Linked DNA regions of Homo sapiens: region 2 is linked to region 1. A link means that fine-mapping ties the variant in region 1 to the expression of a gene that starts in the linked region. Tissue or cell type: fibroblasts. Region 1 holds a variant in brackets; the other region holds the start of a gene. All regions are shown on one strand. Distances are from middle to middle. Region 1 overlaps TNIK (TRAF2 and NCK interacting kinase). Region 2 holds the start of TNIK (TRAF2 and NCK interacting kinase).

Region 1 (16,009 bases):
GTCCTTTAAAGAAGGAATGTTAGTTAAACATAAATGAATAAAAATATCTGAACAGTAAACTTCAAAGTAAATCAATTAGATTTCAGCTGCTTCAAACAGAAAACTCAAAATATTAGTGGGTTAAGGAAGATAGAAGTTTGTTTCTCTTTCAAGATAAAGAAGTTCAGACATAGGCAGCTTAGCGGTAGCATGGTAGCTCCATGATCGTCAGAACCATAGGATCATTTTATTGTTCCGCTATAACAATCTTAGCATAAGGCTTCCATTCTTAAATTCACCTCAGGATCAGAAATGGCTGTAGTGTTCTAGCCATTACATCTGCATTCCAGGCAGCAGGAAGGAGGAGGGAGGAAGACAGAAGAACCCTTCTCCCAGCTAAGTCAGCTCCATTTGGGCAGCCCTTCTGAATGCCCCACACAGTAATTCTGCTTACATACCATTGGCCAGAATTTAGTCATGTATTCATTCCTAGCTTCAGTGGGACAAGGGCATGTAGATTTTGAGCTGGGTGCATTTCCTCCCAAATAAAATTGGAATTTTTGTTAAGGAGCAAGGGGAGAATGAATATTGGGTGGCATTGATCCATCTCTGTTACAGTAACTTAAGATGCAAGCTTTAGTTAAGTAGGAATGACACAGAAAAGATTGCTCTATACACTGTCATTTTCCATTCTATGCTCTGCAGAATATCAGTGCTTAGAGGAGATACAAAGCTTCCTTAAGGAGTGTTCTGTGGCCAGACAAGTTAGGAAAATATGAAAAGCTTTGCCCTGTCTTGGAGATTCACAGGGTACATTAACACATTAAAAGCTTTGAGAGGCCTTGCAGTAAAGAAACCCCTAACCTGCTAATCTTTTTAACCTAGTGTTCCCAAACTTATTTGACAGTGGAAATTCAACACCCATGGAAATCTGGAGGGACAAAAGGACTGGCTTTAGCTTCTTGAGTCTGCCAAAAAGCTTTTAGATCCTTGAACAGATGGTATAAATCCCCCGTTCCAAAATGTTATCTGCCTTGCAAAACTAATAAGCAAGCAAATAAATTTGTATGTCCTTCACGGTGGCCTAGCCATAGATATAAAAGCTTGAAAAAAAAATAGATGCAAATGAAGCCCTGTTATTAACATCTGTATGAGATTTATAAGAGTTGGTATTGGTCAGCCATCTGTACCATTACTGGTGACACCAAGTGATGGACTAAGATTGGTTTGTACCTCTGCCAGATGACAGGTCCCTGCTCCAGGTAGCTATTATTGGGCTCCTGGCTGTTCCTACATGGCTCTGGGCCATCTCACCCTTCTCTGGAAATGGGAGAGTAACAGATGATCTAATCAACCAGCCAATATTTCCCTACTCATAGAAAAGTCCTGGGCCCTTGGCCGAAAGGCATTAACCCTGCCCCTTTCAGTGTGCACAACTCTTGCCCTCATCAGAGGTTCCCTCTGCAAAGGGCAAAGAAGGAAGCTCACTGTATTGTGAAGAGGGGTGGGGACAGGTAGGCAGCTGGTAAAGGGGGCCTCATACTCCTATTAGACTTAGAATAGAGTTAGGTCCCTTTTACCTAAAAGTTTCACCTCTGCCTGTAATCAACTTCATGGTTGCTTATAGGTGTAGGAAGAACAGTTGAAAATTCTTTCAAGCAAATAACGTGTCATTGGTCTGTTGTAAGCAGGTGGTAAATGAGTATCTCTGGGGGAATGGTCCCGTTAAGGCTCTTCTTCCAAAACAGAACCTTGAATTGTTTCCTAATCTTTCTTTCTTAATTATTTAGGTAACCAGCTCTTGTCTTTAAATCCATCTCCTGCAGTTGCTATCTTTTTCTTCATCTAAGTATCTTCAAAAAGGCAAAAGGCCAAAATATTTGCTAGTCTGGTTCCCATCATTTCCACCTCGTTTTGCTGGAAATACTGGAAAGTTACCCTGTCCTGACAGGTCTGGAAGGATCCCATGTTTGCAAATCTTTGTAAACTGTATGATACATTTTCCCAAACAGCTGTATAATCTCTGCAACAACCTGATGATGGGAGGGAAGGGACCAGGTTGAGCAGGGGCTGGGGTTGGGGGTGGTCATGTGCATATTGACCTTTAAAGCAACTTGCGTGTGTGTGTGTGTGTGTGTGTGTGTGTGCGCGTGTGTGTGTGTGTGTTTTGACCAAGTTTCGCTTTTGTCGCTCAGGCTGGAGTGCAGTGGCGTGATCTCAGCTCACTGCAACCTCCACCTCCCTGGTTCAAGCGATGCTCCTGCCTCAGCCTCCTGAGTAGCTGGGATTATAGGCGTGTACCACCACGCCCAGCTAATTTTTGTATTTTTAGTAGAAATGGGGTTTCACCATGTTGGTCAGGCTGGTCTCGAACTCCTGACCTCGTGATCTGCCCGCCTCAGCCTCCCAAAGTGCTGGGATTACAGGCGTGAGCCACTGTGTCCGGCCTGCATGTATGCTTCTTAAAAGACTTTTTTAGAAGAGCTGAGAAAAATTACAGGAGGTGATGGAGAGAGCTATCCTTCTCCAATATCTGTCTTGTGGCTTAGTACCCTGAAGAGTTTTCTTAACTTGCCTTATGGAGTTGGTGTGCCTTTCTCTGACTCTGAATGTGTTAGAAAACAGTCTCTGAACACACAGTTGGGGCTTGTGCATTCCTTGTGTGCACAAGCAGGTTTGTAGTCGTGACTTGGGAATTTCAGGTCAAGAAGCATGAGAAGGGCTGGCCAGTGAATCCCAGCAGCTGACAAAGGATTAAAATAGCTGTGCTATGCACCAAAATCAGAAAAAATATTCAAGTCAGTGTTACAAGAAGTCCTTGGATTGTTCTCTTTTTAGTTTTATATTCTTAGTTGTATATACTTATTTATGCAATGTAAGCTAGTAGACAATAATCAATTTATGTAGAATTATTTGTTTTCATCTGTAAGGAAATAATTTTGAACTGAGCTAACTGTGAGTATGAATATGCTAAGTCTGTGAACCGAGAAAAATATATTTTGAAAATATTATTTATCTTTTATGCTGATATATATGCATGTGACCTACTAAATGGACTGTCAAACTGGCCATGTGCACTAAATCTTCTTACATCATTTCTGGAAATGAATGAAATCGATTTCTTAACCCAACTACCTAGATTTTGCAAAAGAACAGCAGGGCCTGCCCATCCTACCTACTGTCCCTGTTTCCTTCCTTTCCAGGTCCACTTTTTGAAAGGCAATGGGTGATTCCATCGGTTTACTAAAGGGTGAAATCAAACAGAAGGAAAAACTAGAAGTCAAAAGACATAGGTCTTCATTTAACTCTGCCACTAACTAGGATAAGACCTCAGATAAATCACCTAAACTATCTTGCTGGAGAAATCTATAACTGCATAAGTATATAGAGCCTGTCTGGGCCTCTCTTTGCTCTTCTGTAAAATGGGTAGAGATATTTTATTGATATGATCTCAGAAATCCTCGCTGCAAATGTCACAGACCTTACCGCATTGTGGCTGTCGGTGGAAGAAGTGGTGATGTGAGGACTTGCTCCATCCAGATAATATTTATTGAATATCTCTGATGTCCCAGTCATGATCGAGGTATTGGAGATACTGCAGTGGACAAAACCAATAAGAGTTATTCATTCTTGGAGTAAAGAAATTATTCTTTCTTGAGTAAAGAATTTTTAGCGAACACTTTTTAAGCACTTACAATATGCTAGATGTTGCTTTACACATTTTATATATATTAATTATTATATCAAGTAATCCAGCAAAGTGGGTACTACCATTATCAGTATTTTATAGTTGAAGAAACAGGCATAGAAAGATTAAATAACATGCCCAAAGTCATATGGCTAGAAAATGGTGAAGCTGGGATTCGATTCAGGCTTTTGGCTGTAGAGTCTGTGGTTTTCACTATTATGCTATACCGCCTCTCACTGTCAATTAATTGGTTAGCTTAAAGTAATTAGCATTCATCCTAGCTAATGGCAAAGTAGGAAAAAAAGAAACTAGCTTTAGATAGAAATCTGAGAGCCTGTTTGCTCTCCCTCTCTGGGGCTTCTGGCTCTGATAAGAGGCAGGGACACCAAGCAACCATGGTATAGAAAACTTCTATGCTCCCAGCCATTTGGCTCATTGTGGTTTCCTGTCCTGAGGTCACTGCCCATTCTCTGGCTCTATTGTTAACCCACAAGGCCTTCAGCATCCCCGTAACCCCAGGTTAATTTCAGCATTGGCCATTTGTAGAGAAATGAGTAATAATGGACTTGGATTCAAAATACCTGGATTTGAATCCTGGCTCTACTATGAACCAATGTTGTCATCACCTTGGGAAACTTCTCTTAATACCACCAGCAAGAGCAGTATGTCTGTAGCCATTATTTATTAAGCACTGCCATGCATTGTGCTAAATGCTTTATATATGTTGTTTTGGATTCTCAGAACCATCTTCCATGACAGGTATTTTTACCTTTACTTTACAGTCTGGTCTTGGCTGCTGTCTCTACCACTTACTGTTTAATCTTGGGCAAGTTACTTAATTCCTTGACGCCTTAGTTTTATCATCTGAAAATTGGGGTTAGTAATACCTATTTCTCAGGTTGCATAAGGAAGAAATATGAAAATGTATGAAAAGCATTTAGGCTATGGCCTATCCCAATGACAACGATAATGCCTATTATAGCTTATTGTATAGCTTAAGGTTTTGCAGTGATTAATCCGAGGAGTGATGTTTCAAATCCAGTTCTAAAGGCCGACTTTGTGAGGACAGGCTGGAGCTGCAGGGTCTTGAGTGAAGCAGCTGAGCGGGGAGGGTGATCTAAAGCAGTGTCACTGCTGGCTGCTGCACATTAGCAGGTGAAACTAAGCAGACTGCAAACCAAACAGGAGGTGAGGAGGCTCCAGTCTCCCTGTTCTGAGAGATGAAAGCCAAACTGGAAGCTACCAGTATCGAGGGTTAGTTCCTGGAGGTTTGGCTGTGTTCTGCCAGTAGCCAGCTGATCATTGAGGAGCTGGTATTAGTAAGAGGATACCAACACTAGCCAGGAACAGCTCTATCGGAGCAGTTTGTGTCCTGGAATCAGCCTACACTCAGGACAGCCCTTCCCAAAAGACGATGCTTGACACAGGGAGCTGGGGAGTTACCTAGAACATTCATACGCAGGATGCGACATTGTAAAAATGCAGGCCAAAGGGCACTTTCCCAAATTACAGATGAAGAAAACTGGAATATGAGGGGTGAAAGAACTCTAGTAAGGAGTGGAATCCAGACTTGAACCCTAATTGTTTTGGACCAGTCCTGTGATAGGTTTGCATAGTTTAATTTGTCCTACACTGATGATCAAGTAAGAAAAATCAACAATCAGTATTTTACCTACCTATAGCCATATCTCTCTCATCTATCTATCTATCTATCTATCTATCTATCTATCTATCTATCTATCATCTATCTATCTATCTGTATATATTTATGTTTTTTACTTGAATTATCTATTCCAGTTGAGATGACTTCTTTGGGCCAGCAGGTTAATGAAGATATGCTTCTGGGCTATATTCCAGATCTCCTGGATCAATACTCTTGGAGCACCTTTTCTCATATGCTGCTTGTCGTTATGATGATCTAATCACTATGTACGTGTAGTAAGTTGCTCATGTCTGCTTCCTTCCTTAGATTGGAAGCACCATGAAGCAGGGGCCATGTACCCCACTGCCTCTACCTTGGACAGTGTATAACACACAGTAGGTGGCGAGGGAGGGTGCCAGGTAGCAGTCAGGGATTAAATAAATCTTACTGTGTAAAGCAAGACCTTTGACTCTGCAAACCTCTACTGCTTTAGAAGAGGGGAAGTTAAAGTAAAAAATTACCTTTGAGGGAACTTGCCTGGCTGTGAGTGCAGCATAAACTAGAATCTGGGGGTTGTTGAGTCAGCACAGTTTCCTAATGCTGTACTTTCGAAGATGATGTTGAAAAGCCTGAAGCCTCAAGATAAATGTGGAGAGTTCTCCTACTGTTCCTGTTTTCTTTGTTCTGTTTTGCTTTTGTAAGCATATGCTTGTCAGTTAGGGCTGAAACCAAACAAAACAGCTGCTAAATATGGTTCTAAAAGAAATAACATTTTGGTCTTCTTAAGGCCCGTAAGTTTAGAGTAAGCACAGTCGTTTGGCAGATGTCAATAGGGAATCCGGGGGTAGCAGTCATTCTGGGAGCACTATCAGCCATCCGTATTCTGTTGGGTGTATTTTACCCTGCCAGAGGACTGGTGGCCTCAAGTAAAAGATTCTGTCACAGAACGGCTGTGTCTTTAAGAGGCGTTTTGGAGGAGGGGTGTCTAGAGTCTGTGTAGGCCATTTGCTCATGATCCGTGTCAATTTCATTTTCAAAGAAGTGGGGAGGCATTGGAAAGAATATGTATCATCTTTTATGATGTGAAGGAAATAGTCATCCTAGTTACAGACTTAAGTTTGCCTTTTTCAATCTTTGGGATTTAGCCCAGTGGTGTTATTTAGTGTTCTTATAAATCCAGTATCATTCAGAGGACCTGGAGGAATTAAAGCATAACCTAGTGGCAGGGAATATCAAACCCTAGATCTTAAATCTCTCCTCTCTGCTGTGAAGCTGGGCTTGAGCCTGCCAATGCCATCTAAATTTCATCAGCTGAAAGAAAGAGTATTTATTTCAACATCCAAGGAACCCCCAAAACTTAATGCGCCTTCTCAATTGTCTAACTAATTTTTAAAGAGACATACATTTTGTCCATAAATACCTGACTCTGTTTGCTAAGCATGTGGTGGGTAATATTATTGGTTGAAAAGCAATAGGTTTTCGTTTACTGGCCAGATTAGTTTTATTGGCTTTTTTAGTTGAAAATCTATAAAATGCGGACTGAATTTTACTGTGGCATATTCTTTGTTTATTACATGAACTCATTTTCAAAGATGAAAAAGAAAAGGGAGGAAGAAAATGAATATTTATTAAAGTCCTATTACATATCAGGCCCCAAGCTAGTCTAGACACTCACAGTTCTCATTGTATCTCCCAAGGGAGGTAATCCTGTCCACATTTTAAAGATGAGGAAACTGAGGTTCAATGCAGTTCTGAAACTGGCTCAAGGTTAGAGAGCTACCAGGTGGTAAACCAAGGGCTGGGGATTATGGTTCCATGAAGCTATGATATAGTGATTAGGAACTCAAGGTTTGGAGTCTGACCATCTGAGTCAACATCCTGGCTCTGCCGCTCATTAGTAGTGTGACCCTGACTAAGCATTTAATCCCTCCGTGCCTCCATTTCCTAATCTGTAAAACAAAGATAATGATAGCATCCACTTGATAAAGCTGTGATAAATGAGCTATTCATGAAAAATGCTTAGAATCGTTTCTGACACATAAGTCCTCATGAAATGTTCACTATTACTGTAATTTTTATTGTCATGACTAACCAAGTTTGCTTTTATCAGTACTGGCTGAAAAATTACATT[T/C]TCTTTCAAGGAATAGTCTACCTTTTGATATGTAGTTATATTTCATTATGAAATAATGTAAACTACTCTACCTTAGAATTAAATTCTCTTCTCACCCTCCCAGCAAAGGTTAAGATCTGAATAAAGGCATGTGTGGCCAACAGGGATTCTTGACTTTGGTAAATGTCAATGATTTGCTCTTTTCTCCTTGGTGTATGTAACTTTCTTCCATGCTGCTCATCCTGGCTTTAAGAGCAGCTAAGCAAACACAAGAGGGAGAATTAAGTGGATTTCTTATCTCTTAGCTTTCCTGTCTTTGTAACATGATTATTAGGTACAGCTTCCTCTCCTTGCTGCACATTCTGTTGGCCACATTCTGACAGCCTGTCTTCTCAATGCACGTGAGGCACAGTTTACTACAACAGGCTCTATGGATTTTATTTTTTTAAGCTGGGAATACTACAGGGGCTTTTACATGTGACAGTTTTGTCCATTTGGGATTGGGGTAAGGAGGATAGAGGGCACAGTGGTAAAACAACTTGTCTAGATTTAAAAGAAATGATGTAAGTTTGCTAGACCTTTGGCTCTACATTCTGATCCCATTTTTTGTGATTTGCACTATACATGTCTTGAAGAATTGGGAGTGGGACATCAACCTTATTCAGTAAATAGTTATATCTAGCAGTTATGTATTGGACAGCATGCTAAGTGCTGGAAATACCAAGATAAATATGTTACAGTGCTTGCTCTTGAGGCATTTGTAATTCATCAAGGGAGAGAAATGTAAGAGAGGCTAGCACTATGTGAAAATGGTTATCATAGAGCTGTGCACAACATATTGCGGCTGCAGAGAGAGAGAGGCAGTGACGCTGATTTAAGAAGGGCTTCAGAAAGGAGGCAGCAAGCTGGGCTTTCAAGGATGGGCTTGCCTCATAAAGAAAGCAGAAGGAATAATCTTGGCAGATGGGCAGTATGAACCAAGAGCTGAGTGTGGTATGTTAGGGACATGAGGGACATGTGTTGGTTATAGTACAGAATGATGGAACACAAGGCTGGGAATCGAGGCCAGGCCTAAGAATGACATGACCTTGACTTTCAGTTTGAACCGTATCTTGTATTATTTTAAATCATGGAGTGTCATGATTAGAAATGTCTGTTTTAGAAAGATCAGTATGGAGAATAGCTTAGAAGGAAGAAAGAATTAACTAAAAGCAAATGGTCCCAGAAAAAGATGATGAAGCCTGTTGTGTGAATGGAGTGGAGTAGATGGATATGGTGGACATTTGGAGATAAGATCATTGACACTTAGTGAACAAAATTAGGGGAGTGGTGGACAAGGGTGGAAACTTAGGGGAAGGTACCTAGAAGGTGTGAGCAGAAGAAATATTATAGAATCTGTGAGAGAGACTAAGAGGTATGATAGAAGATGGTGGAGGGATATATTTTCAACAGGAGTAGTGATGCTCAGGAGTATAAATGCCTCAAAAGGGACAACTAGGACAGGACTGAGAAGCAACCACTATGTGTAAGAAATTGAGGTTCATGGTGACCTTTTGGGGAAATTACTTTAGAGGTACTCTAGAATGGAGAAAACAGCTAAATGCTTATACTGTTCAAGCTGTATCACAATTCTACAAGGATGTAACTAATGATGAAATGCATTTGTGTGAAAGACTATTCACAAACATTCAGCTCTCCAGGCGCTTGGATTGGGGGAAAGAGAGAAGAGAGCCTAGGGTCAGTACTGAGGTGTCACTGAATAATACCTCTGACTTCCATATCTAGGGTTTCAAAGAGCCCCCTCCTTGCAAATACCATGACTCATGCTATTTTGCTTTGTTACTCTCAGGATACTGTAGACTGTAGATGCTTATAGACTTCTCTTTTGATTCCAGACTGGTTCTTATTTCTAGCCATGGTGCTTGTAGTGTATGTTGTGGTATGTCACACAGAGCTCAGTTCTCCACTGCTGAGGCACTCAGTTGTCCACCTTCTGGGAGTGTAGGTAGCTAGGGATGACGTTCATCTGAAAAATGTCCTCAGCTGAACAGTGTCAGTTCACCTAAGATTGTTACCTCTGGGACGGGTATTGGGGGGCATCCCACATGCAGTGACTAGTCAATGGAGATGGGATGCAAAGTCCTGATGCTTCCAGGTAGGATAATTCTCCAGGGCTGTCCTAGCTCCAGCACTTCCATGGATCAGATGAAGTTTTTGTTACCACTACATTTCAGTTCAGCTCTTCCTTTGGCTCAGTCCAGTTCTTCCTTTACTCCCCGGCAGGTGTTGATTCTGAGGCATACCCCAATAAACTCACACAGTATAAATCTCAGGGAGTCTCAGGTTTTATTCCTGGGGAACCCATCTGATATGATGATTCTTTCCAGTTTGGTTGCCTATGCAAGGCCAGTTGCCAGTAGAACTCTTTAGTTCCTCTGAACTTTACTTCTGAGGCCCTTGGATGTGTCCAGCAAAAACCTTCTCCTAGCAGTTTGAACTAAAGGCTCAGCATTAAGCCTCCTTGGTTTTGATTGGTTGGGACATATACCCAAGAATAGATTATTCAAGGAGAGAAAAGAGCCTCACAAGTCAGCTGTCCAGATCTTCCTGAGACCTACCTACTAACCCCAGCTCTGAGAGGGGACCCTGAGGCGAGTGACCTTTGGATGTAGAAGCTGATTCCTGCTCTGCACCTGTTTGTGCTCCTGCCCTCATCTCACATCCCTGTTTGATTCCCAGGTTCCTTGAGGCAGCCACTCATCACTGTCCTGTATCTCTTCTCTTTCTGTTATTTTTTTTTTAGTTAAGAAAAATGAATGTTGAAAACACAATTGAGCTATTTCAAGCAAATGTAGGACTTCTCTCCAAATATGTTGCAGAAACACCACCAAGCAAACAAACTACTGGGAAGCACAGCTTAGAAACAAACAGCAGCTGCCACCATTTATGGGCTTTTTTTTTCTTTTCCTCATTTCTTTCTAATTCCATTTGTAATAAAACCTGCTGCTCTAATGGCCTAGTAGTTTAACCAACAAAATTTTTCTTCCCGATCCTGAGGCCTCCCAGGTGGCCTTGATGGTGTCTTCTAACTATGGGGTGTTGGTCGACTCAGAGCTCTAAGTCCCTTAAGAGTGTTTTCCGGTTTTGTGGTTCTGTCTGGAACCACACCTCCCAGACCAGGTGGGGCATAACTGGAACTTCTGGACTTCTGGATTTTTCAGGACATGAGCATGGAGTGTGGTTTCTTGCCCTTCTGGCTTTGTAAGAGCAGGTAATGTAGTGCTAACTCCAATCTTTCTCAGTGACTAAGTGCTTAATCTGTTGGGTGCTTTGTTTGCTTTTTGTTTTTGTTTTTATTTGTTCTCTGTGTGGAATCTTTGAAGGCACCTACGCAGGGGCTTTTCTTGAGTTTGATTTACCACAGATTGGACTTTAAAGCATCCTGACTTGTCAGATCAAACTCATTTTTCCCTTTCCCCAGAATAGCAGATAAACTCATTTTCCCCTTCCCCCATTTAAATCCTGCTGGTGGTGTGGAATTTCTCAGCTTAAAAGTGATTACTATTAGGTGTTAATAGATTTCCGACTACTTGAAAGGCATTGTGCAAAGCCCACACTTATTCTTCACAAGAGCATGGCTAGGTAGATGTCATCCCTGCAGACCCAGACAATATGTTGCTTTCTCGGGGTCTCCTAGGATCACACAGCTGGTCAAGGCACAGCTGGTATTTAACCCAGGTCTCTCTGAATCTGAAGTTCAGGCTGTTCCCTCCCTGCCTCTTAGCCACCCATTGTAATAATATATGGCATTGCTCTTATGTAAGTGTCCAGTAGAGACAGGCCAAAGGCGCAGTCTATTTTTATTTGTTCCTAAGAATGTTTTTTAAATTAAGTGCCTAAAACTTAAAAAATAGGAGATCTCACATTAAATACAATGTTCAGTTTCTCTTGAAAAATCTTTAGACCTGGCAATATTGTGCTCATATGTTGACAAGACAACAAGTGGCTCCAGCTAAGTAAACTCCACCCCACCCCACCCTACCATACCATACCCTACCTCCCTCAAGGAGGCTCGGGTTGCCCAGTTTGCCACAGGCCCCAACTGGACCACTTTACTTGTTTATGTTACTGGCCTGGCCTCTGTAGACATTTAAGTTTGTGACTCCTAGATTTATGCCTTTAAAGAAGCAATTTCTGTCCAGTTAGGAATCAGTAAGGGGTGAAAGTCAATTTCTGCCTCTGAATAGAATTTTATTGGCTTTGATTTTTCTTTTCAACTTTTTGGGATAGTAATTCAGTTATAATAGCAGTAATTTTGGATATTTATTGAACGCTGTAACATTTAGCTGACTCCTGGGGTTAGTGGACAACTGATTGGTGGTAAGAACTTGAATAATTCTCCAATTTAGTTTGCATTCTAAATCCTGCAGTTACTCAGCAGGTACTGCAGGAACTGGAGGCTATCCTCAAAAGTATATTTTGTAGAGGCAGTATTACAGAAGAGATGAATCCAAAGAAAAACTTTCTGAGAGAGGTAGTTAAGTTGACTCTATTTTCCCTTGGAAACTGTTGACTACCATAGGTAAGATTGCCCCACAATGCACGAACACCCTTCTTAGCTACCAGGGCTCACTCAACACAATGAACAGCTCGGATATTTCAAAGAGAAATACCCTGGAACATTAGAACCTTCTCAGGATGATGAGTCTTTCACTTTATCTTGCTGTAGCTCCTGCAAGTGTGTTTTTCCATTTAACAGTGAGAAATGTGTTACTTCTTTTTTATTATTTCACTTGAAAAAGCATCTCCTTTTGCCTGATTTAAACACATTTCATAGAAATGTAAAATGGAAAGAAAATAGAACTTGGCTAATTTCATAGCTGCAGCTGACTTAAATTTTAAAATTTTGATAGTATTAAATGTTAACACATGAGAGCCCCTGAAGCTAAAGTTGTTATTTATTTGCTTAATTTAAATAAGTATTTGCTTTTGATTAAGGCAATGCCTGGAATATTGTTTTGAATTTTTATTGTTTGTTTATTTTCTTTCAGGACCCCGCAGGGATCTTTGAATTGGTGGAACTTGTTGGAAATGGAACATACGGGCAAGTTTATAAGGTAAGTACATTGAGTCTGAGAGTGGCTTATGTACGGTTTCAGTTCATGAATGACAAATTGCAGTGCTGTCTATACTGGCTCATAAATGGCTCCTAACAAATTTAAAATGAATTAATATACTTGTTGATTGACTCTCCATCTTTTAAAATATATCTGTGGTTATGTTGCTTAAACTGGATTCTGTGATTTGGGTATTTCCCTTCATTATATATTACTGTGTTTGTATGTGACACATGAATTCTGATGGCACATATTTGAAGCTCTTCAAGCGTTCAGTTTCCTTTACTTAATCACTGCCAGAACTGGTTTTTGAAAGAGAAAAGAATGCCATCTACTTCAGAAATTTAAGCTATTAAACTATTACAGCTGGAAAAGTAGATGTGTTATTGGCCTAGGACATGAATTAAATGAGTGGAGTGAACAGTGTTGGAAGAAAACTGGGTTACCTCACAAAGCAAAAGCTTAATAGCAGCGACGAATTTTAGGAAATAATTAAAAGTTAAACTTGAGTTGAGACTGAGCTGTGGAATAAGAAGTCTTGCTTGCCTGTGTACTAATTTCTGCTTACAAATTCACTCAAAAAGTGTTTTTAAAAGGTATTTTCCCCAAGTATAATCTACGAAAAATGGCTGGTTGAAAATGTGAGTTGATTCCTTTTCTGATTGTCAAAAAAAAAAACAAAAAAAATGAAAGTGAACTGTTTTTGGACTGAAACTTTTGGGGTTTCATTGAATGAGCTATTGAAATGCCATCAAAACAAACCAACTGTTTCCTCATGATAATTTCTAGGGAAATATCCATCATTTTCCCTAGTGGCAGCGATATGGGATGGCATTTCCATTACAAATTATCTCGTGTTCTATTTTTAAAAATTCCTCCTGAGCCCTAAACTTCTCTCAGTTAATTAAATTTATTATAGAAATCATTCAGGTTGTAATATTTTCAATTCTGCAGAATGTCAAAAGTATTATTTATAGGGTATTCTCGAGATTCTAAGTGGATACACATTTATATGTTTATTTACGAGAGGTTTCCTTTGGTGTCCAGGGGAAAATTCTCCCTTGCAAGAAACGATTATTTCCTAAATTGTACACCTTTTACCATTAGACAGAATGTAGTCTACCCAACCTGCTCACTTGACGTTGATCCTGTCTGACACAGAAAGAAATGTGTCTCAGCAAAGGCTTTTAAATACTTTCAATGAAGATAATTAGGTTGGAAGATTGTGTTACTGCATTTTGAGAAACTGGATTGAACTTGTGAAGTAACTAATGAATTAAGCTCTGACTTAGGTACAAAATTACTTCTGATTTGCTGTCAATATGAAGGAGCAACTCTGTAGCATGCTGTTGGTTTTATGGTGCCATTTCTTAGAGCCTTTCCGTTTCATTATGTTTCCCACCCATAGAATATACATTTGGGAGACATTTCACAGCTTGGTACACTAATTCAAGAGGTGAAACTCTGCAGTCTTATAAGAGGAGATACCAAGAGATTCAATTAAGGATGAGAATATTTGGAAAATCCAGAATTATCCATAATTTCTTGTTATTTGAAAAAGGCAAGGAAACAAATGGCAAGAGGTCTCAGATCTTTTTAGAGAGGGAAGATATTTAGCAGCTAGGTTGTCAACATTATTATTCTAAAGGATTCCATTCTCTTGGTGGTTGATACAGTACTATGGCACCTTCCAAGTTTAAGGGAGATTCTGCAAAGAATGGTCATGGTGAATGCAGTGAACTTTGGGACAGGAGATTTGCTCTCTTTTACCAGCCCCATTGTTTTGTAGCCACCACAGCTTTTCTGTGTATTAGTCAAATGAGAATGTAGTTAGAGATGCTTTGGGGCCTGGCCAGGTGCGGTGGCTCACGCCTGTAATCCCAGCACTTTGGGAGGCCAAGGCAGATGGATCATTTGAGCTCAGATTTCAAGACCAACCAGGCCAACATGATGCAACCCTGTCTCTACTAAAAATACAAAAATTAGCCAGGTGGTAGTGGCATGCACCTGTAATCTCAGCTACTCGAGAGGCTGAGGCAGGAGAATCTCTTAAGCCTGGGAGGCAGAGGTTGTGGTGAGCCGATATCTTGCCACTGCACTCCAGTCTGGGCGAGAGAGTGGGACTCTGTCCCCTCCCCCCCCCCCCAAAAAAATGCTATGGGGCCTTGTGTTGATTTACTTAAAGAATTATAACTCCCTACCTACCTATTTAAGGGTTTGGTTTCTAGGCAACCAGACGATGTTAGGTGGCACTGCTCATGAGCAGACCCTGTGTTTCCTGAGGCCACTAATCCAGTCCTGCTGTCATTCTGAGTTCTAAAAGATTAAAGTTTAATAAAATAGCAAAATACGAGCTAAAAGATATGTGAGCCTAAGTAAATTACATTAAAAAGTGATTGCACTATAGATTATGCAACTTTTATGGAATATGTATGTTTCTAAAATACTGTAGGTATAAATAGAAATGTTATAGCTCTAGGAGGAGGTCCTTATACATAAAATCATATGATAAGTATTTTCTTTCTGTTAAATACTGTATTAGTCTGTTCTCCCGCTGCTATGAAGAAATACTTGAGACTGGGCAATTTATAAAGGAAAGAGGTTTAACTGACTCACAGTTCTGCCTGGCTGAGGAGGCCTCAGGAAATTTACGATCATGGCAGAAGCCACCTCTTCACAGGGTGGCAGGAGAGAGAATCAGTGCCCAGTAAAGGGGGAAGCCTCTTATAAAACCATCAGATCTCATGAGAACTAACTCACTATCATGAGAACAGGATGGGTGAAACCGCCTCCATGATTCAATTATCTCCACCTGGTCTCTCCCATGACACATGGGGATTACGGGAACTACAATTCAAGACGAAATTTGGTTGGGGACACAGCCAAACCATATCAAATGCTAAGCCTTTGATTTTAATTTTTAAAGTCTCTCTTTTGGCATTCCTGGTTTTCATAAAGTCAGGTATAATTTTATGAATAAGTATATGGACATAGCCCTTATTTTATGGAAAAATTTATTATAAGTTTCTTTTTTATAAGCTGCCCTAAGAGAGTCATAATATAATTTTGTTTACAGGTAGTTTTAAAGAAACATACTTAATATAATAAATAAAAAGTATATGTAGGTATTCAGAGAACACCTTGAAATATATCTGCATGTGAGTCAGGTACATCTAGATATAGAAATATAAATATTTTATATAAAAGCCATTTAATAATGTTTAGTTTTTCAAAGTTGCTTCTAGTCTTACTCCCAATTTTAGCTTATTCCTGTTTTGGGCAAGGTTAGATTTGTTTATCTTTAGCATTTTAGTCCCATCTAATCAAGTAGTGATTCAATGTCTGTTTTTTGCTTTATTTACCGAGGAGCATAGGTAAATAATAAAGAATAGTGATTCACTCTCAGGACTTTTAATGAGGAAACCATCTCCTTCTGTTCATGGCTGCATTAAAAAATAAACCAACAAAAGGCC
Region 2 (16,009 bases), 87 kb before region 1:
TCCCACATGCTCTTCTTCAGTGCAACTTAGATAATCCTCTTATTGAAAGGTGGCATCTCTGCATCCTCCCCTTGAGTCCGGGTAGATTCATGACAGTGGTGGAAATGAAGTCGCATGACTTCTGAGGCTAGGTCAGAAAAGGAAATACAGCTTCTACCTGGTTCTCATGGGATGCTTGTTCTTGCAACTCAGACACTATGCCATGAAGAAGCTCCAACAGACCGTGGAGAGACCCACCCGGAGAGGAAGAGAAGCTCCCAGCCATCAGCCCTGGCTGAGCACTCCTGATAGCCTAACACCACACTTGCTAGGCATGTGAGCAAGCCATTTTGGAAGTGGGTCCTCCAGCCCTACCTCATGCTCTGTGGAGCAAATGAGAATTCCCCACGAAATCCTGCCCAAATTACACATTTTCAAGCTACAGAAATGACTGTTACTGTTTTAAGTCATTGAGTTTAGAGGTGGTTTGTTTGTTATAAAGCAATAAATAACTAGCACAGAGAACCAAGTTTGGAAACGAACAAGATACAAGGAAACAAGGCTTCCTATTCCTCGAACTAGGAAAGAGGAGTGGTCTCTAGTCATACCTTATGGGTAGGGTAACACAACTGGAATGAATTAACACTAATCATTTTCAGCCCTGCCATTCTTCTGAAGTTCCAGGTTTTGGTGAAGGGTCCTTCCACTGTTCCAATTTCAGTCACCTCCTCACCCTTTGTCTACCAATGAGCAGAAAACCTGAGTGACAGCCACAATAATCTGTAACCAAGGGAAAAGAGACAATGATTTAAAAATAAAAATGGATAAAAGAAGTTTGTATTCATTTTTTTAAATCACTGCTGTGACAAATCACCTCAAAATTAGTGGCTTTACTTAAATAACACAAATCTATTATCCTATAGTCAGAAGTCCAAAATGGGTCTTTCTGGGCTAAAATCAAGATGTTAGTAGGGGCCAGGCATGGTGGCTCATCCCTGTAATCCTAACACTTTGGGAGGCTGAGGTGGGAGGATCCCTTGAGCTCAGGAGTTTGAGATCTGCCTGGGCAACATAGTGAGATTTCATCTCTACAAGAAAATTGAAAAATTAGCCAAGCGTGGTGGCCTGCGCCTGTAGTCCCAGTTACTTCAGTGGCCAAGGTGGGAGGATCCCTTAAGTGCAAGAGATCAAGGCTGCAGTGAGCTGTGATCTCACCACTGCACTCCAGCCTAGGAATGCAGTGACAAGTGAGCAAGACCCTGTCTCAAAAAATAAAATAAAATAAATGAAAAGGGCCTGCTGCAGTGGCTCATGCCTGTAATCCCAGCACTTTCAGAGGCCAAGGTGGGAGGATCATCTGAGGTCAGGAGTTCAAAACCAGCGTGGCCAACATGGTGAAACTCCATCTCTACTAAAAATACAAAAATTAGCCAGGCATGGTGGCACATGCCTGTAATCCCAGCTACTCAGGAGGAGAATCACTTGAACCCGGGAGGCGGAGGTTGCAGTGAGCTCCACTGCACTGTAACCTTGGCGACAGAGCAAGACTCCATCAAAAAAAAAAAGAAAGAAAGAAAGAAAAAAAAATGTTATCAGGGCTGCATTCCTTTCTGGAGGCTCCCGGGGACAATGTGCTTCCTTGCCTGATTCAGCTTCTAGTGGCTGCCCATATTCCTTGGTGTATGTGTGCCCCTTCCTTCATTTTCAAAGCCAGCAATGTTATATTTCTCAGTGCCTTTTTCATATTACATCTTCCTCTAACTCTGAGTCCTTTTCTGACTCCCTCTTTTACTTTTAAGGAACTTTGTGATTACTTGGGTTTACTCTGATAATCCAGGAAAATCTCCTCATCTCAAATGCCTTAACTGAATCACATCTGCACAGTCCCTCTTGCCTTGTAAGGTAACGTAATTACAGGTTCCAGAGATTGGAACGTGGACGTCGATGAGGGGCCATTATTCTGCCTACCACAGTATACCAAAGCAGAATGGATACTGGGTGGGCCCCACCACTCTAAAAACTTGTTCTTCATACTACTCATTCTGGTTGATATTTTTTCTTTTCTTTATTTTATTGAATTCATAGTTACTCTTGTTTCATTTTTTTTCCATTCAAGTAGCCTGTACTTTAAACATCCAATTTGTATCCATCTATGTGGTGACCTTATGTTTATTATGCATAATTGATATACTTTTCTGTGTTTAGAGATAGTATCTATATACATCTCCAAATAAGACAAAAAAATCTTAGCATGCTTTTCCTCCTCTTCTTGCCTTTTATCCTTGTGATAACATCATTTAGTTATAGACTATCATTATTTATTTTTATTAACTAGCAATGATGAAAACAATTAAAAATTTAAAATTTTCTATAACAGAAAGTGGTTGGGTGCAAAAAACAGAATACTCCACTAAAGCTGACTTAAACCATGAGAAAAACTTATGTCACACAAAAAGAAATTCAAAGACAGTTTGTTCCTGGGTTAGTTAATGTAGTGATTCAATGGTGTCATGCAGGATCCAGGTTCTTTTCATCTTTTCACTTTTTTTGAAGCTCCTCCCACCCTGGTAGGAAGAAGACTTCTATAGTTCCAGCTATTATATCCTCACACAACCCTGTCTGAAAATAATGTATTAGTTATCCCTTCCTGCATAACACATCAAGCAACTTAAAACAACAATAAAGTTTATTATTTTAATAATATGATTTCTGTGGGTCAGGGATTCGGGAGCAGATTGGTTGGGTGCTTCTAGCTTAGGATCTCTCATGAGGTTTCTGTCAGAATCAGCTGAGACTGCAGTCATCTGAAGGCTTGACTGGGGCTAGAGATCCACTTCAAAGCGACTCATCAACATGGCAGGCAGGTTGCATGAATATCTGTGGGACAAGATGGCTGGCTTCCCATAGAGCTCTGGTTCTTATTGTGGGTGATTTTTCTCACCAGGGGGCATTTAGCAATATCTGGAGACGTGTTTGGTTGTCATAACTGGAAAGTTGCTATTGATATCTAGTGGGTTGGAACTAGAGTTACTGCTAAACATCCTATATGACACAAGACAGCCTTTCACAACATGAATTATCAGGCCCAAAATGCCAATAGTGCTAATGTTAAGAAATCCTGCCTTAGAGCAAGTGAGCCAAGAGAGCAAGGTAAAAGCTGAAATGCCTTGTATTACCCAGCTTTGGAAGTCCTCTGTATTCCATGTTGGAGGGATCCACACAAGGGTGTGAATACCAGAAAGTGAGGCTCATTGGAAATCATCTTGGGCATAGCTACCATGGGAAGGAAGCTTTTCCTGGCCATTTCTCTTGTTTTGTCTTCTCTTCCTTCCTTCTTCCTTCATTTCTTCCGATCTTCCTTCCCTATTCCTTGTTTCCTTTTCTTTTTTCAACTTTCAAAGAGGAAAACCATTTCTTTTCTTTTCTTTCTTTTTTTTTTTTTTTTTTTGGAGACGGAGTTTCGCTCTCGTTGCCTAGGCTGGAGTGCAATGCCGTGATCTGGGGTCATCGCAACCTCCGCCTCCTGGGTTCAAGCAATTCTCCTGCCTCAGCCTCCCGAGTAGCTGGGATTACAGGCATGTGCCACCACGGCTGGCTAATTTTGTATTTTTAGTAGAGACGGGGTTTCTCCATGTTGGTCAGGCCAGTCTCAACCTCTCGACCTCAGGTGATCCGCCCGCCTCGGCCTCCCAAAGTGCTGGCATTACAGGCGTAAGCCACGGTGCCCGATGGAGGAAAACCATATCTATAAGCCCTACCAGACTTCTCTGCACTTCTCAGTAGTCAGTGTTGAATGATATGCCTATGTCTAAACCAATCATTAGGAGAGAGAATAGAATGGGGCTGGGGAGAATCTATATGTTTTACACACATGGAGGGTAAATTGTCAAAATCGGTGTTTTACTAGTAAGGAAGAAAGAATGGCTTTGAGCAGGTAACAGAGTTTGCTACCTTTGTTTATCATTGTCTTTTGTAACACACACTTTGTTTTTGGATTCAGTTTACTCTTTGGTGGAAGACATTCTCTAAAAGTAATTTCAAGGATGGGCAGCAATCTCAACTCTTACATATCTGAAAATATGTGTCATTATTTTGTACCCTCTCTTAAGTGCTAATTTAGTTTGGTAGTCTAGGTTAAAAACAATTCCCTTAGAGGCTGGGCGTGGTGGCTTGCACCTGTAATTCCAACATTTTGGGAAGCCGAGGTGGAATCCCAGGAATTTGAGACCAGCCAAGGAAACTTACTGAGACTCCAGCTCTAAAAAAAAAAAAAAAAAAAAAAAAAAAAATTAGCCAGGCATGGCAGCACGCACTTGTGGTCCCAGCTCAGTTATTGGGTGGTGGTGGGGTTAAGGTAGTTAAGGTGGGAGGATAGCTTGAACTCACTGAGGTCCTGCAATGAGCCAGCCACACACTCCAGTCTGGGTGACAGAGAGAGACTGTGTCTCAAAAACAAAACAAAACAAGACAAAACACCATTACAATGATTTCCTTAGAATACTGTTCCATTGTCTATTAGCATCCATTGTTGCTGATGAGAAGGTAATCCAGTTAAGATTTACTTTTTATCCTTCATGCTCTGAAATCTCACTGTGAGGTGTTTAAGTGTGTTATTTTTTACCTATGCATTTGGCTCAGAGCTAAATGAGAGCTTTTTACTTAAAGATACTGGAATATTTTCTTTTTTTCATTCTTGTTGCCCAGGCTGGAGTGCAATGGCACGATCTTGGCTCACTACAACCTCCACCTCCAGGGTTCAAGCAATTCTCCTGCCTCAGCCTCCCTAGTAGCTGGGATTACAGGCATGCATTGCCACACCCGGCTAATTTTGTATTTTTAGTAGAGACGGGGTTTCTCCATGTTGGTGAGACTGGTCTTGAACTCCCTACCTCAGGTGATCCGCCCTCCTCAGCCTCCCAAAGTGCTGGGATTACAGGTGTGAGCCACCGTGCCCAGTCAAGATACTGGAATATTTTCTACCATTTTTTGAGTATTTCCTTCCATCCATTCTCTAGATCCCTTATCAGATGAATATTGGGCCTTCTGGATTTATTCTCCATGTTACTTAAATTACTTAAATGCCTTGGACTAGGTAATTTATAAACAACAGAAACAGAATTGCTCACAGTTCTGCGGCCGGAAAGTCCAAGATCAAGATATCAGCGGATTTGAAGTCTGCTGAGGGCTCCTTTCTCACAGATGGCCCCTTCTATGCATCTTCATGTGGTGGAAGGGCGAACAGGCTCCCTCAAGCTTCTTTTCTCAGGGCACTAATCCAGTTCATGAAGGATCTGCCCTCATGATCTAATCACCTCTTAAAGGTTCCACCTCTTAATACTATCACTATGGGGGTTAGGTTTCAACACATAAATTTTGGGAGACACAAACATTCAGATAGAACAAATGCTTAGAAAAATATCTGCAGCATAGTATTACTTATTATTCAAATTTTCTATTCATTTTTATAAAGAGGGTCTCCCTCTGTCGCCCAGGCTGGAGTGCAGTGGCTTATCTTGGCTTGCTGCAGCCTCAACCTCCCGGACTCAAGCAATTCTTCCACCTCAGCCACCCTAGTAGCTGGGATTGCAGGGGTGTACCACTATGCCCACCTAATTTTTGTATTTTTTGTAGAGATGGGGTTCTACCAAGTTGCCCAGGCGGGTCTCGAACTCCTGGACTCAAACTATCCTCCCAACCTGTCCTCCCAAAATGTTGGCATCACAGGTGTGAGCCACCACCGTGCCTGGCAGAAATCTTTAGCAAAAAAATTAGGTATCATTGTTGGAGTCTCCTTTTCCTCTTCCTCTTTTCTCATTATCCTGAAGTTAATCTGTATCCTTACTGCCTGTATCCATGCTTTATATAGTTTACTACATATTTATACATATGTAAACAGCATAGTGTATTATTCGGCAGGTTTTCAAACTGCACATAAATGGTGTCAGTTCTCTTAATCCTTCAGATTACATCAAGAAAAAAATCTCAAGTCTTGAATGTTTTTCCTGGTATTTGCTATTCTCTCTTTTAACAAACTAAGAGTAGGCCTTAGGCTAGAAGCCCAGAGCAGGAATTGATGGCTAGCTAGAATTTAATAATACTTCTTTATTTTCCATTATATTTATTTTAATGGTTTCCTCCCCCCTTTTTTTTTCAAAGCAAGTGTTGTTGGCTTTCCATTTAGAGTAGTGATTTATGTTTTCTTTTATATTAAGTGTAAGAAAAAAGTGTTGATTTAAAGAAAAATGTTAAGTAAGTGGTAAAATAGTACAGGCAATACAGAGACATAGGAAAAAATTAGGAAATTTATACTGGAATAGCTGAAATTTGATACACACTTGACCAAAAGGAAAAAGTTCAAGTTCCTCCTTCTCACCTTCCTTTACCAGTTGGAGGTCCCTTTGATACTGCAATCTCTCCTTTTATGGTATTTCCTGCAGCCCACACCCCTGCCTTCCCCTGGCTGTCTCATCAACTTCTCAGGCTCTTAGGAAGCCCTCCTCCATTTAGCACCTGGCATCATACTGCATCTATAACTTTCTCATCTAAAACTAAACTAAATCTGAATGCCAACTTGGCACCCTCGTGGCCCAAACAGCTCACTAATGTCAAAAAAGTTGATCTGTTTGTGATGTTTCAAATATAATCATGAGTATAAAACGAAGGCTTTCCATGGAAAAAATATTTAACTCATATTTCCTTATGTTTGCAGTTTTAAAAAAATAGTTGTTTATAGATCTTAATACTTGATCTTAAATTATCTTCTTTCAACCCTGAGACAATACATTAACCTGTTGTCTAGATGAACGGTAAAAAAACAGGAACACAGAAGAGAAAAAAACAAAGACAATGATGGGAAATAATCTGTTTTTTTTTTTTCATTTCGACGTGGTGGCTTACTGCACGTTACTTACTATGTCGAACCAGATGATTTTAGTAAAAAATGAGTTTAGTAATTTAGTATAACACGTTCAAATGTTTACATACAACGTTTACAGGCAAAAGCTACCAAACTGTTGTGGCCATTGAGATGTTGGAACAATTTTCAAGTTTCATGGTGCATGATCCACAATGCATATGAATACATACAATATCAGTAACAAAAACAGTACAATGTACACCAAAGGTTGTTTCAAAGTCCTCTAATGTCTGCAGTCATGATGAACTAACTGCACTGGCTTTCATTCATTCATTCATAAGACTTATTTTGAAGCTGATCTTCATACTGCATGATTAAGAAACCATCAGTGCAGTGGTCAGAATTACATTCTGCTGTTAACAGAGGAGCAAAGAATGCTTTCAAAGCTACTGCTGTATTTGGAAAAAAGTTCAGTTTTAGTGTTTTCTTTCTAGGTATTTTGCATGGCTAAGGCGGGAGAAGAAGGGCTGCGCGGGGATTGGGGGAAGCGACTTCCCACTCTTGATTACAGAAGGAGAATCATGTATACCACTGTAAAACATCCAACCTTTAAATGAGAAAGTGAGTGAAGTGAAATCGCTCTCACGTACACATCTTCCGCGTTACTTCTTATCCGCCAGCCAAACTTTCTCCATCAATCTGGGTAGGTCTGCCACGAAAACGCAGCCTGAAAGAAATGCTGAGTCCTGAGGCGGCGTGTGTTGCCTCACCCAGTGTTGGCTTTGGAGTTACCTGAAGCCTTCTAGCTACTGCACCCAGAGAGCAAGCTTCTCGTTTCAACTCGGTTGTTTCCGTGGGGAATTGCGGCACGAGCAAGTCCTGGGTGTGGCGATGCCAAGAGAGCGCTCAGATCTCCCATCTTTCCCGCTTCTGGCAAACCTTCCCAGCCCCGAATCGGCGAGTGACCAGCACCCGGGATCAGCCGTCCGGCATTCCGGGGACCGCGGGTGGACCCGACCCCGCCGCAGCTGCAAACTGCCGAAGCGCCCAGCTGGGTGCACTGTGCGTGTGCGCTTCTTCCCTACTCTTTCCGCGCCTGGAGGCGGATCCCCTTCCTTGCACACAAGTCCTTATATGCACCGGTTGCACCAGCCCGCGTTACTCCGGCCCCACAAATAATTAATGGGGGAGGGAGGGTGTCGCTTTTTTTTCCTCCGGCTTTTTCTCAGCGCGAGAGCATTTGAACCGAGGAGAAACCCCAAGACGCGACTGAAGGGCCATTTTGCTGCAGTGCACGAATTGGCCACACAAAAATAGAGCTTGGGTCCCTATGATAACAAGTCAAGGTTCAGGAACAGCCCCTTCGGGTTCGGCCCGAGGAGCCCGCAAAAGCCTGGGCGGAAAGGGTGCGCGCCCCTCCCCCCTCCACGCTGGTGCAGAGGGACCGGGTCAGGAAGCGCGGCCTCTCCCCAGTCCAAGACCACGCCTCCTCCGCCTCCCCACTCCCCCTTCACTCCTCCCAGGAAGCGGTGATAGACAGTTCTGCGTGGTTCTCCACCCCCACCCTCCCCCTGCTGAGTGGAGGAGTTGATGTGTCTCATTATAACAGCCAATGCAGCCGCCATCCACGCACAAGCAAAGAAGCATGTCCCATTTAAATACACCCACGCAGCCCCAGCGCCCTTAGCCGATCGGGGCGCTCAGCCCACACGCACCGCTGCTCGGGGCTTGGAGATCCGCGCAGGCTGGGCTCCCGGACCCGGCGGACCGACGCGCGGAGGATCGGGATCCGGCGCTGTGGGGCTGGGGTGGGCGGGGGAGGCTGGGCCCGGGGCCTCTGGCGCGACACCCGCATGAGGACGCGAGTGAAATAGACCAAGGTGGAATTTCCAAGGGAAAAGCTTCGGGGTGGTTTTGGTCCATTTCTCCAGCGAAGAAGTAGACATGGCGAGCGACTCCCCGGCTCGAAGCCTGGATGAAATAGATCTCTCGGCTCTGAGGGTGAGCAGGACGTTTTCTGGTTTCTTTCCAGTGGTTTGGGTTAGGGTGAATGGGCTCGGTGCGTGGACTGGGGGCTGGGGCTGGGGCAGGGGGACAGCAGCGGGAGAATGCGTCGGGGAGGGAACCTGGATTCCCGTTTTGATTCGGGGTTGCTGAGGTGCTCCTGGCTGAGCCCCTACGGCAGGGGCTGTGCGGTACGTGTCTTCCTCTGGCCGTGGCTTAGGCTCTCCCGAGGGCTCGTAGAGCTTATGCCAGTTTCATCTTATACCGGTGTAAGAGCATTAAAATGAAAGGCGTGTGTGCGTGTGTGTGTGTGTGTGTGTGTGTGTGTACACGCCCCGGGCAGTTGTCTGGTGCCAAGGCGCGAGACCCGACTGTCCCTTCTGCAAAAAGAATGCCAGCGTGAATAAAGGCACTGGCCCCTCACGTTTTCCAGCTACCTGCAAGATGACATTGTGAGGCTGGCTGTCCCCGCGAAGCCGAACCTGCCGCTCCAAGGGGGCAGTTATTGCTATGCTGGTCTTGTAGATGGCAACTGCCTCCCCCTCCCCCTTTTCTACCTCCCGCGCCCGGGCGCCCTCTCAGCGCTCCCTTAAATGCCAGTCTGCCACTCACCTTTATTTATGGCTTTAACTCAGCCCTGCCTGTTCTTTCTGACTTTGTGGCTGTAACGTTTCAGTTTTATGGCTGAACTTAAGCAGGTGAAAGGGATGTGTTTTCTGCTTTTCCTCAATCAGACCGGAACTCCCTGGAGTGTGTGCGAGTGTGTGTGTGTGTGTGTCTGTGTGTGTTTTCCCCGTGTCTGTGGCCAGTCCTTTGTAGAGCACCTCCCTCCCCCCAGCCCCACTGGTTTGCGTTTACCTTCACGTGAATTACCTCAGACGCCGTTTCATTGTATTGACTAAGACATCACTGATATAGAATCCATTTTGCTGTTGTTTTGAGATCAGAATACCAGGAATCCAAGTGCTGCTTCGACGCTTCCCCACCCCCAACTCCCGATCCCAACACACTCCTTTGGGGAAGGGGGCAGAGCTTTCTTGCCATTTTAATTAGATGCTGCCTGCCTGGAAGGGGGTGAGGGGTGGGGATGGTGGCAGCAGCGGGTGTCTGAGAAGGATTGGACACCAATTTAAGGACTGCTTCTTCCTCTCCCGAACCAAAAATAAAATTAAAAAGAAAGCGAGTGCATATACTTGATGTATGGAGGGTGGATGAGAAGGAATTCATGGTGGCTCTCTACAGGGAGACACCAGGATGGATGAAGCATGGAAGTTCACACGCCCTCCTGAGGAATACATTGTTAGATTGATGCTGAATCTTGGGGCCATTTACCTGGATTCCTAGTACTTCTGACATTGCCGCTATCTGCACTGATATATTAAAGTGCTACCTTTGTGATCAAAGTGGTACTTTCTCTTTGGTCTCCTTAATTAAACCTTTTCCTCCACATCTCTTTGAATAAGTCTTTCTCTCTTCGTCTTAATCTGTTGGGCTAAGAGATGAGGTTTCAGCAAGGCAAGTAAGGAGTTGAGAAGAAACAGAGATGCCGTTTGAAATGGGCTGTTCTGATAGTTGGGCAGCCAAAGCTCATTCATGCATTATTACAGGAAGCTGTCTATTTCCCTGGAGTGGAAATGCCACATCAAGAACCGGCTGCCCCCTGCGCAGCGGGGTGGGGTTGGTAACAGGGTGGGTGCATTGGCCAGGTCTGTGGCTTCCTGCTTTACCGACTGTGTGTGTTCATTTGCCCTACTTTCTACGCTGGGAGTTGCTGCCGGCGAGTTAATCAGGTGGATGGATGGCCCCGACTGGGGGTGGGGTGCTGCGAATCGGTCGGAGGTCGGGGTGGGGGGCGGGAAGTGGCAAAGGGGGAAGGGGTCTGAACAATGCGCAGGGCTTGCGGTGATTTCCCTGGGCCGGAATCTCGACCTTGCTCCTCTACTGGAAAGCAGTCTGATGTGATTTTAAGTTGGGCCGGGACTTGTCCCTTATGGGCTTTTTCCTCGGGAAGGTTTTCTGAGATACCAAGCACGGAGCCTGCAGGCAGGGGAGCAACCGGTGAGGGCCCACTGGGCGGACGACTGCGGTTCACACTTGGGATGTGCTTTCTTGTGATCTGTATTTTGAAAATATATCTTTGCACAATTCACTGAAATTGCTCTTTGTGGCCTGGGCTATCAGCTTAGGGCTCTGCTTCTGTTTTTCTGCCTGCTGGGAGGTGTGGAAACAGAGAGGGCAACAGCTAGCTTGGGGACCAGGAACTGCTGGCTAGAAGACTTAGATGCAGATGTGGAGACAGTTATATCCTGGAGGGCCAGGGTCTTTGACCAGTCTTGTGGGTGAGGTGTGTCTGCTGGAGTGGGTCCAAAGGCCACATAGGTAATCTCCACAAATCAGAGGGCAGATCATCTCCACCTTGCCACATTTGGAGAGGTGGCCTCATCTAGATGAGATGTCTCATTTGTTCCTAAGCCCTTGGTAAAGTCTGCCTGCTGAGCCCCTCCTGGGGAATGCCTGACCCCTGAAATGCAGCCAAGGTCAGTGGCTTCTGGGAGAATTTGCTGCAGACTTACCAGTCCCTCGCTGTTTCGGTGGCTCTTTAATGTACACAGTCAATGCTCTTTTTGTAAACCCTGGGCTCAAAGCATTAAAAGCAGATCCTGTCTAGAGAGGCCTTTATCCTTCTCACTTTGGGGGCTTATTGTTCTCAGCCAGTGATTCCAGACCGGACCCAGTCTAAATTTTCCCCAAATAGCAACAATGCATAATTTAAACCAGAGCAACCAATGACAGCACTGATCATTTAAATTATGCAAGATTTGCATGGTTTAAAAGTGAGTGAAGCAGGATCTTCTTTGGTTAGAAAATAGGTACTTTGAATCCAGTTTTAGCCCTGATTTTTAGAGCTCAGAGATAAACTAAATCTTGAGGGATGGGCTGGAATTGTTTTATAGATTCAGAGCTGGAAAGAGAATTGTAGAACACTCAGCCACTCCTTTCATTGAACACTTGGGAAACTGAAGCCCAGAGGCGTGAAGTAAGTTGTTCAAGGTCACACAGTAACAAGGGGAGGGGACAGCGAGGAGCGTGGTTTGAGGAAATAATCTAGATTTCCTGACTCCTCATTCAGTGCTCTTTTCTCTAAGTCACACTTTCTGTGGTGGAATCAGAAATCAATAATACATTTTCTGCCTGAGTACAAAAGAATAGCAGAAAGGAATAATTTCACCAGGGTCAGGGAATTTTATTTATTGAGAATGGCGAAACTACTTCATGCAAGTAAGCTTGTGATACATGAAACCATGGAGCTCTAGGCCACCTTTGGAATTCATCTTGTCCAGCCCTGGTTCAATGCCTACTCTGCAGGCAAACGACTGTCTGAAATCACCTAGGACACATGGTTGTCCTGCACAGGTAACCTCTCTGAGTAACCTGTGTCCATCAGAGCATGTCTCAAGGGGTCAGTATAAACATACATGTTATTCAGATGGCTCTGCATGTGAGGTTTATAGAGTTGTGTGTATGTTTTGTATTATCTATGTGGATACATATATTATGTGTAGTATTATGGATATAAACCGTATCCACGTGGGTGTATGAAAATGTGTGTATACATACATAGGCTACAGCAAACAATTTACTCATTCAAACCTGGGGCTTGAGTCATTCTTGCTTCAAGACATCTCAGTATTAAAAGAGATGAAAGTTGCCACCAGTGTGCTTTATTACATATGAGGCGAGCTCAGCCCAGAAAGCTTTTTGGAGATTAGCATATTTCTGGACCTAAGCACCTTGGCTGTCCTTAACTTGGCCCACAGGGTAAGGCATTCAAGGCCAGGAGTTGGCTGCTGCTGACCTCATACTCTCAGCTTCTGCCAGGACTCACATACACTTTTGTATTTGAACAAAATTAGATGATCTACACTTGTCTTTCCCCTTAGCCCTCATTCCCTAGCCATTCCTTTCTCCATTGAAACCCAGATTTAAGAATTGACCTCATCTGAAAGCCTTGCATACATCCCTTTGCTACACTTTTCATGCTCATGTTTTACTTGGTGTGTGATTTCCTTTCTGCTTCTTTACTAAACCGTGGACTTCTTGAGGGCAGAGGCTAGATCTTGTTCATCTTTGGAGCCATAGTCTCCATTAGTTGGATGAATGAGTACGTGAATGAATGCTTGAATGAATGGAGTGGAATGAACCCTGTCTCCCCAGTTCTATGTCCACCTCTTATTCACTCTGTGACTTTGGGTAGGACATTTAACCATAGTTAATAAGAATCATCACAACTGTTTGCCTTTCTCACATACTGGTTTCAAAATCAATAAAGTATTTAAGGCAATGCTTTAAAAACCATACAGCACTGTACAAATATGCTATCCCATGGTTAAGTAGAATTTAGTGGGAAAATTGATACCATCAACATTTGATTGCAATGATTTTATCTAATAGAAAATTATCTTTCCTGGGCACAGTGGCTCACACCTGTAATCCCAGCACTTCGGGAGGCCGAAGTGGGAGGACTGCTTGAAACCAGGAGTTTCAGATCATCATGGGCAATGTAGGGAGACTCCATCTCTAAAAAAAAAAAAAAAAAGTCAGTGTGGTGGTGTGTGCCTGTGGTCCCAGCTAATTGGGAGACTGAGGTGGGAAGATAGTTTGAGCCTGAGAAGTCGAGGCTGTGATTGTGTCACGGCACTCCAGCCTCAGTGACAGAGTGACATCTTGTTTAAGAAAAAAAAAAGAAGACTAAGAAAAGAAGGAAAATAATCTTCAGAAAAAGATATCAGAAGGTTCCGACTCTTTTTAACAGTACCTCCACAGACCTTAGCTGCCTTTTTCCTTTTGTGTACCAATGTGACCTTGTATGTTTCTTTGATGGCCTGAATTGAGCTTTGCGCCCCCAGTATTAAGCATTCATTACATATGAGGTAAGTGCAGCCCTGAAGTTTTTTGGAGATTAACATATTTCTAAACTAGTATCAACTATCAGCATTGTTCATTAAAACCTTCTTTTTTAAAAAAAGTTTTCTCTCTTTATGTATTACCGATTATTCAAATACAAACACATTGATCATGACTGTGCCTTCCTAAAGTTTTATCTTTTCCCTTGGGAGATAGAGTGGACACATAAAATGATACACTAATGGCCCAGTATTTAAAACTTTCTGGTGAGAGGTCTCATGGGGCTCAAAGAAATCTCGAAACATTATTAGTTCATTACTCCAGAGCACTTAATTAAATTTGGTCTAAAATGAGATTTTAGTAAAGTTGCATGAGTTGATAACAGTATCTCAAAATGATAACAGCATGGCAATTTTTTCATTAGATATTCTTTTTATTTTTCAGAGATACTAAACAGGTGTTTTCTTTACAATGGCATTGCCTCATAAAAAGTAGGGTGTGCTGGTATTTATCAGAACATCAGAGAAATATGCATAATCATTTTCATTATTCATTATTAACTGGAGTAATCTTTAGTACAAAAGCCAGTGTAAGTCATGGTTTGCTGTTTGCATAATTATCTACTTAGGAGGTCATGTAATATTTTGTTGATGAGAGAGTACCCAGTACATTTCTTTCAGGAAATATTCCTTTTTTCCCCCTTATCTGTAAAACTCTTTGATATCTTATAATTTCGAGTCTTGCCCGTTCGGCCTTTCTTCTTTCTGTGTCTCTGCCCTGGAATTAATCTTCCGTGCCCTTCTTGTTTCGACGCCATTCCTTCTCTCAGTGATAGTGGTTCTAAAGTCCACCCAGCCAGGCGCTCCTGTGATTGAATCATGGCCGCCATGCCCAGCTGAGCACAACCAGTCTCTGATTCCCTTCCTGATAGAATCTGGAGTAACTTGAGTCTGAAAGATGCTTTAATGTCAAATTGATTCTTACATTTCTGTGGGGGAAGTAGCTCTCTGAGAACAGGGCCTAAACTGGTTTGTTAGCAGTGTGCTGAGAATTCTAAGAAAATCTTAATGATATTTTTTGAATGAAATGTTATTCTGCACATATAAATATAAGGTCTCTAGTGGAGAGAGAGGGAGGACTTAAGTAGAAAATGTTGGATGAATTCCGCTTGTGATTCCTTCCAGTCTGGTTGGAAGCTTATTTCCCTTTAGAGAAACATGATTCTATCCACTCTTTTTTACATGTCCTGGTTGTCTCATGGGGGTGCCCTCAGTTTCTCAAAACACATTTTATATCACCCCAACTTAAAATTCTTCCCTTAATGTTTATCATATGGGTCCCCTTGTCTCCACTGTTCCCTGCAAGTGCTGTAGTTACTGTCCCCTGGGCAACACCCGCAACAGGACCTCCCCTCCTCCTGTGTCTCTACCACCAGCCTTCTTCTGACTGGTTTCTCGTACACTGTAGCCACGTGAGTCTTCCAAACGCACAGTTTCAATCTGGTTGTTTTTATTCAAGGCCTTCTCTGTCTCCTTAGTCTACAGACTGAAAACTAAACTCTTTAGCATGTTAAGACCAGCGGCAATTCAGAGGGGCCTCCCACCGAGCTCTGCAGTTTTGACGACCACTCCCCCATTGCGGCAGGGAACAATTTCATTCCCCCATGGATGCTCTGTAGGGGGCGCTCTGTCTTAGTCTCCTTTCTGTACCTACTGCCCCAACGCTGAACATTCGCAGACCACCTTTTCCACAGAAGTCTCTGATTTCTCTCAAGTTGTCCCTCCCACTCATAGACTGTCTCAGAACTGACCTCACACCTCTTTCATAACACTCAGAACTTTCTGTCTTGGATTATATTCACTACTAGACAATTCCTTTTTAGAGGCAACGTTTGATTTTCTTAGGGATCCTCACCAGTTTTCTTTACACAGCAGGCGTTCGTTCAACAAATAAATTTTGAATTAACAAAATATATACTGTGCAACCCTTTTAGAAGGGCTGGAGGTGGTGCTATGTAGAGAGAGTATAGAAACCTCAGAAAGGTGGGGCCTGTTGCTGACCATGGCACAATTTCAGGGATCATGAATTACATTATAGTCTAGGTTGCATGACTCCTGGGGACACTTTTTATGTAGAGTACAATTCCAGTGGATGCTAATTACATAGAGTACAATTCCGGGGGCACCAATTACGAGAAATACTATGCCTGGTCCTGGGTAGGTATTCCTATTTCTAGAATTTTTCTGCCAAGGAAAGTGTTCTCTC

Evidence for each region. PIP is the estimated chance that this variant, and not a neighbour inherited with it, causes the effect.
Region 2: it holds the start of TNIK, and the variant in region 1 is fine-mapped to the expression of TNIK in fibroblasts (GTEx, PIP above 0.99).

Annotation. Positions count from the first base shown.
Region 1 is chr3:171,366,147-171,382,155 of GRCh38, reverse strand. It overlaps TNIK (TRAF2 and NCK interacting kinase), which reads left to right. Exons shown (of 33, transcript NM_015028.4): 2 at 12,471-12,536. Among named protein-coding and RNA genes, the nearest start is that of TNIK, 86 kb to the left of the region's middle. The variant T/C (reference allele first, on the strand shown) is at 7,441.
Region 2 is chr3:171,452,834-171,468,842 of GRCh38, reverse strand. It overlaps TNIK (TRAF2 and NCK interacting kinase), which reads left to right and starts at 8,438. Exons shown (of 33, transcript NM_015028.4): 1 at 8,438-8,836. The coding sequence starts at 8,780. It overlaps LOC124906303 (a long non-coding RNA gene), which reads left to right and starts at 10,672. Exons shown (of 2, transcript XR_007096168.1): 1 at 10,672-10,897. LOC102724479 (a long non-coding RNA gene) reads right to left here and starts at 9,625. Exons shown (of 3, transcript NR_189068.1): 1 at 9,452-9,625; 2 at 588-759; 3 at 1-127. RefSeq lists silencers at 168-217, 8,749-8,808 and an enhancer at 7,237-7,737.